2 separate regions of the Homo sapiens genome follow, and region 2 is linked to region 1. The links come from fine-mapping of genetic effects on gene expression. A gene starts in region 1. The other region holds a variant in brackets. All regions are shown on one strand. Distances are from middle to middle. Region 1 holds the start of HFE (homeostatic iron regulator). Region 2 holds the start of H1-6 (H1.6 linker histone, cluster member).

Region 1 (2,913 bases):
AATTTGCCAGGAAGCAGGCCGTGCCATGCCTCATTCTTGTCATGTGTAAAATGTGGATACACGTAGTACCAAAACTCAAAGTGCTGTGCTGAGGCCGGCGTGTGACCCACAGAACACTGTGCTACACTACAGGGCAAAATCACTGTCAACTAAGATTAGAAGCAGCTGTAGTACTTGAAATAACATCAGAAAACCAGATTATTTATGTTCTTTGTAACCTGAAAAGAGTTATATAATCTGAATTCCAGTTAACTTCTAGTAAAATAAACGTATTATTAGCTCCTACCTCCCTATGCCTAGTGAAAATCAAATAAGATCAGATATGAATGTAACTTAGAAGTGAGTGCATTGCTTACATGTTCATTATCAGTACTTTGTAGAGAGGCCTCTTAATTACACAGCACATTGCAAATCAATAAAGCCTAGCCGAAAAGAGAATTGTTCAGTTCAAACGTTCAAAACTAACATATACTTAATTTTCCAGGCAAAAGAACAATTGCCAAGAGTGGGGAAAGGCCCGAGGTAGGCCTCTCTCAGGAGCCTCCCACCCTAGAGACCTCCACCCCAGGTCTCACCAAAAGTGGGTGGAATGGTGAAGAATTCAGATCCCCAACGCCACTCTTTCGCGCCCCCACCGCCCAACGCATTCGTTCTGAGGTGGAAACCCCGTGCGGATCCTGCTGTGGGTTTGCTCAGCCTTCTCGGCAAGCACTCAGGGAAGAACTTCCTGTTTGGAGATGACTGGGGAAAAAACTGCACAGCTGACATTGGAAATAAACCCGAGTTCCAGGTTCAAGGAGCCCCAGGCTTAGCTCAGCTCAAGTGAGGAACTACGAGATTTATTTAAAAGCATTCTAGTTGGGGGAAGGGAGTGGGCGGTTCCAAAAGTCACTCCGCAGAGCCGGGACAGCCGGGGGAGGGGGCAGGTCCTGGGGCGAGGGACCCCTATCTGCAGTTCAGTGGTAGGCACTCCCTCACGGGGTCTGGACGCAGAAAGTAGGGAGAGGGGCTTGCGGATAGGGTTGAGCAGGTCCTCCAAAGTTAGCAAACTCCCAAGCGCAAAGAAAAAGCTAGTTTCGATTTTTCCACCCCCGCCGCGCCCCTAGTTCGCCCGCAGCCCTCGGACTCACGCAGCAAGCGCCCCTGCAGGACCGCGGTCTGCAAAAGCATCAGGAGGAGAAGCGCCGGCCTGGCTCGCGGGCCCATTTCCCCAGCTCTGGCCGCACGTCCCCGTTAAATCTCCGCTTCTTTTGGGGGGCGGGGAAACGGGGATGGCTCCAGAAGTCACCCTACAGCTATTGCCTAGGCTCAGGAGATGCCCAGTAAAACTTCCTGGTGAAAAGCAACAGGTCTTTCAGAACTTTAGTTCTCTCTCTCCTACAGCAGAAGGTACCTGCTTGTGAAACACTAGGTGATCCAGTGTCCCCCTTGGTTTTTAAATCCTGAAGGGGTGTTGTTGATTGGGGAAAGTAGCTTCGCAATGTTCTGATCTGAACTTTAGATATTTAAATATTTATGATTTTCAAAATTCAATCATACATTTAAAAATTTTATCTCAACCTTAGACCAACTTATGTCTTATTTGACTTAGAAATATAAAGCTTTTTCATTTTGTTTTTTGATTCAAATTAATTAAGTCATAACATTAACCAATTAGATCCTACTGAAACACCTTCCACAGCCTTCATAATTGAATTATCTGACAAGTGTTTCACAAACTTTACAGTATTGGGATTATCTGGAGAATGATTAAACATATTGAGGCCTGCTCCTAACCCCAGACACACTGATTTAATGGGTAATTGTTAGGTAGTTAGACATTAGCAGTTGGGAGGGGATGACAGAAGAGAGCGGAAAGGCTGTCACTAAGACAGCCACTGGCCCACCTAAATTCAGGCCCAAGACTACCCTAATGCCACCCTAAGGGATGGAGTTTATGATAAAGTCTGTGGCCAAAATATCCTGGAGAAAGAGAAAGGAGGGTACAGGTGGAAATTCCCTAAGGTGGCACATGCCCAACAACACAAAAGCCTGTCTTCAAGTTCACCCCAAGTTCATCATGCCATCATTATAATAGAATTTACATACAGTTTTGCCCCCCCATCCCTGGGAGGCTTTTCTTAACAAATTATAGGTAAGACCATGCACAGTTTAATTTTAGATTGTATAGCTATACACTTCAATCAAATAACATCATCCTGTCACTCAGATACAGCCCAAACCTCAACTCCTCCCCACAAACCCCATAAAAGCACCTTGAGCTCTGTAAAGAAGTGCTGAGTTCACTTCGCAGAAATAAGCCCGCTGTCCCTCAGAGTGTATTATTGTGCTTCAATAAACTTTGCTTTAAGCTTGCATTTTGGTGTTAGTTTGTAGTTCTTTGCTCACTATCACAAGAACTGAGATTGCTGGTTCAGAGCTCCGGCTATAATAATCTCCTCGGTTAAAGGATCCATCCCAATGCATAATTCCCAGTAACAGTATGGGATGCCACCTGGGCAATGGGATTTTAAAAGCTTTCCTTCTCCCTCAACGAAGTTTGGGAATTATTGCCTTAGACATTTCAAACAATATTAATAAATTTAATACACCTGATTTGCTCCAAACCTTTACATATCTAGCAAATTCAACAGGCATTATTTTTGTAAGCATGTATGCAAATTTTGGCAATTCAAGAAAATCAAACAGGATATCAGGGCCTCGACTGTAGGCAAACAGATACAATAACATTGGAAACATGTAGAATATTGATGATGGGCACATTGGGGCTGATAGTACTATTCCTTTTTTTCAATTTTTGGTAAGATATAATTAGCATACCATATAATTCATCTATGTAAAATGCAAAAATTGGCCCGGCTCAGTGGCTCACGCTTGTAATCCCAGCACTTTGGGCGGCCGAGGAAGGCAGAT
Region 2 (2,913 bases), 22 kb before region 1:
GTTGTGGAATCAATCTCATGATTTCCAACCTAGTGTTCTTTTAAAAATGAACTAGTCCACAGTAGAATATACTAAAGTGCTGGTGCTTAAGATAGTATTGTTTTCTGGAAAAAAAAAAAAAATTTTTTTTTTTTGAGACAGGGTCTCGCTCTTGCCCAGGCTGAAGTGCAGTGGCACAATCATGCTCACTGCAGCCTTGACCTCCTGGGCCCAAGTGATTCTCCCACCTCAGCCTTTTGAGTAACTGGGACCACAGGTACGTGCCACCACACCCGGGTAATTTTTTAATTGTAGAGACAGGGTCTTGCTATGTGCTTAGGCTGGCCTTGTGAACTCCTGGGCTCTAGTGATCCACTAGCCTCAGCCTCCCAAATTTATGGGATTATAGGCATGAGCCACCCTACCTGGCCTGTTCCCTGAATTTTTTTTTCTTTCAGGTGTTTGTGCATATGTGTGTGTGTATGGGTATAACAGAGAGACAGAGAGAAAGAAACTTTTCTATCTCACTTTGCAATCAGAAGTTTGAAGTCTTATCTTTTGGCTTTTGTTTCAGAAATATTTCAAATGTAGACTCTCTCCTTTACCACACTGTCCCCTTAGGCAAGGTCTTTGCCATTCTTCTGAGACTATTGCAACAGACTCCCAACTTCTGACTGTGGGCCCTTCTCAAAAATGATTGTTTATGCAATAAATCTAAACCCAAGACAACTACAACAATACAACAAATTCTCTGCTTAAAAACTTCCAATGTCTGCCGGGCGCGGCGGCTCACGCATGTATTCCCAGCACTTTGGAGGCAGAGGCGGGCAGATCACTTGAGGTGGGGAGTTCGAGACTAGCCTGGCCAACATGATGAAACCCCATCTCTACTAAAAATACAAAAAATTAGCCAGGCATGGTGGTGGGCGCCTATAATCCCAGCTAATTGGGAGGCTGAGGCAGGAGAATTGCCTGAACCTGGGAGGTGGAGGTTGCACTGAGCCAAGATCACACCATTGCACTCCAGCCTGGGCAACAAGAGCAAAACTCTGTCTCAAACCAAACCAAAACAAAACTTCTAATATCTACCAAATGTTTCACACAAGTATTTGGGGATCTTCACAAATGGCCCTTATGGAGTTTTCCTTTGCTGAGACCCTATGCTCTGGCCACACTAAACTCATTCAGCATCCCAGAAAGGCCTCAGCCTTTGTGAGCAAGCTCTTATCTCCAGGCCTCTCACAAAGACCTGTTCCAGTAGAAGCTCAGGGGAGCACACTGGACATTATTCCAACAACCCTTTCCCCACAGCTATGCAGCCAAATCTGCCAGCTCAGTTAATTAATTAAGCAATTCAGAGATGAGGGTCTGCCCAGGCTGGAGTGCAGTAGCTGCGACCTCAAGCTCCTGGGCTCTAAGTGATCCTCTTCAGTCTACCCAGAAGCTGGGACTGCAGGCATGTGCCACCACACCCAGCTAATTTTTTTTTTTTTCAGTAGGGACCAGGCCAACCTAGTCTTGAACTCCTGGCCTCCAGCCTTCCGAAGTGCTGTAATTACAGGCATGAATC[A/G]CTGCGCCCAGCCAACCCGCCCAGTCTTGTTAGACATGGGGTCTGTAGTTTCTAGTAGGTTCTTGAGTCTAGGGTTCCTACCTCATGTTTTATAGTTAATTTAGGGGAGGGACTGTGTCTGTTTATCTGGGGATGTAGGGGTGGGCAGGGGGATAGAGGGGACTTCAATTAATGAAACCAGAAGCAAAACTCAGTTGAGGACACCGGTCATGAGAGTGGCCTGATTATGGCCAATCTTACATAATGTGTGAGATCTTGATATTACCCCATCCTTGAGAGTCCTCTATAAAGCTACAGGGACTTGGGAGCACCTTTAATTACAGACAACCCATGTTCCTGTGGATTATGATTTATTAGATTGCACATGCCTAAATAAAGACATCCTCTGCAGTCTTTTGACAATTCTATAAGCATCTTCTGACTCCGCAATTAGACAGCTAAGAGATCTGTGTTACTTCCCTCACATATATAAATAATTTTAAATAAAAATCATGGCGTGAATAATTTCTTTCCTCTACCGATTTGAAGCTATCCATTTGGAAGACCACTCTGAAGAGATGAAATAAGTCTTCTGCCAAAGATTACTTATTAATTTACAAGGAAAAGGGGAAGTTTTGTTCCTCTCCGTGAATTTGATTGAAAATCGAGGGCTTTCTCGAATAGTTTTGGCATCCAGGGTCATTTTTCATTAAAAAGAGAAAAGTCATGTCAAATATGAATTTCCGCAGATTATTCAGCACTAGACCCTGGGAGATTCTGTAAAGAGGGGTTTTGTTATACTCAACTTTTCCGGGTAAAACAAACACAAATACTCCTCCTCCAAGGGGCGGGGGCGGTGCCTAGGTGATGCACCAATCACAGCGCGCCCTACCCTATATAAGGCCCCGAGGCCGCCCGGGTGTTTCATGCTTTTCGCTGGTTATTACATCTTGCGTTTCTCTGTTGTTATGTCTGAAACCGTGCCTGCAGCTTCTGCCAGTGCTGGTGTAGCCGCTATGGAGAAACTTCCAACCAAGAAGCGAGGGAGGAAGCCGGCTGGCTTGATAAGTGCAAGTCGCAAAGTGCCGAACCTCTCTGTGTCCAAGTTGATCACCGAGGCCCTTTCAGTGTCACAGGAACGAGTAGGTATGTCTTTGGTTGCGCTCAAGAAGGCATTGGCCGCTGCTGGCTACGACGTAGAGAAGAATAACAGCCGCATCAAACTGTCCCTCAAGAGCTTAGTGAACAAGGGAATCCTGGTGCAAACCAGGGGTACTGGTGCTTCCGGTTCCTTTAAGCTTAGTAAGAAGGTGATTCCTAAATCTACCAGAAGCAAGGCTAAAAAGTCAGTTTCTGCCAAGACCAAGAAGCTGGTTTTATCCAGG

What was found. PIP is the estimated chance that this variant, and not a neighbour inherited with it, causes the effect. A credible set is the group of variants that fine-mapping cannot tell apart.
Region 2: its variant is the best candidate, but not a certain one, in a credible set for the expression of HFE in whole blood (TOPMed, PIP 0.50).

What each region holds. Positions count from the first base shown.
Region 1 is chr6:26,085,734-26,088,646 of GRCh38, reverse strand. HFE (homeostatic iron regulator) reads right to left here and starts at 1,218. Exons shown (of 6, transcript NM_000410.4): 1 at 1,131-1,218. The coding sequence starts at 1,206. It also overlaps HFE-AS1.
Region 2 is chr6:26,107,677-26,110,589 of GRCh38, reverse strand. It overlaps H1-6 (H1.6 linker histone, cluster member), which reads left to right and starts at 2,455. Exons shown (of 1, transcript NM_005323.4): 1 at 2,455-2,913. The coding sequence starts at 2,497. The variant A/G (reference allele first, on the strand shown) is at 1,550.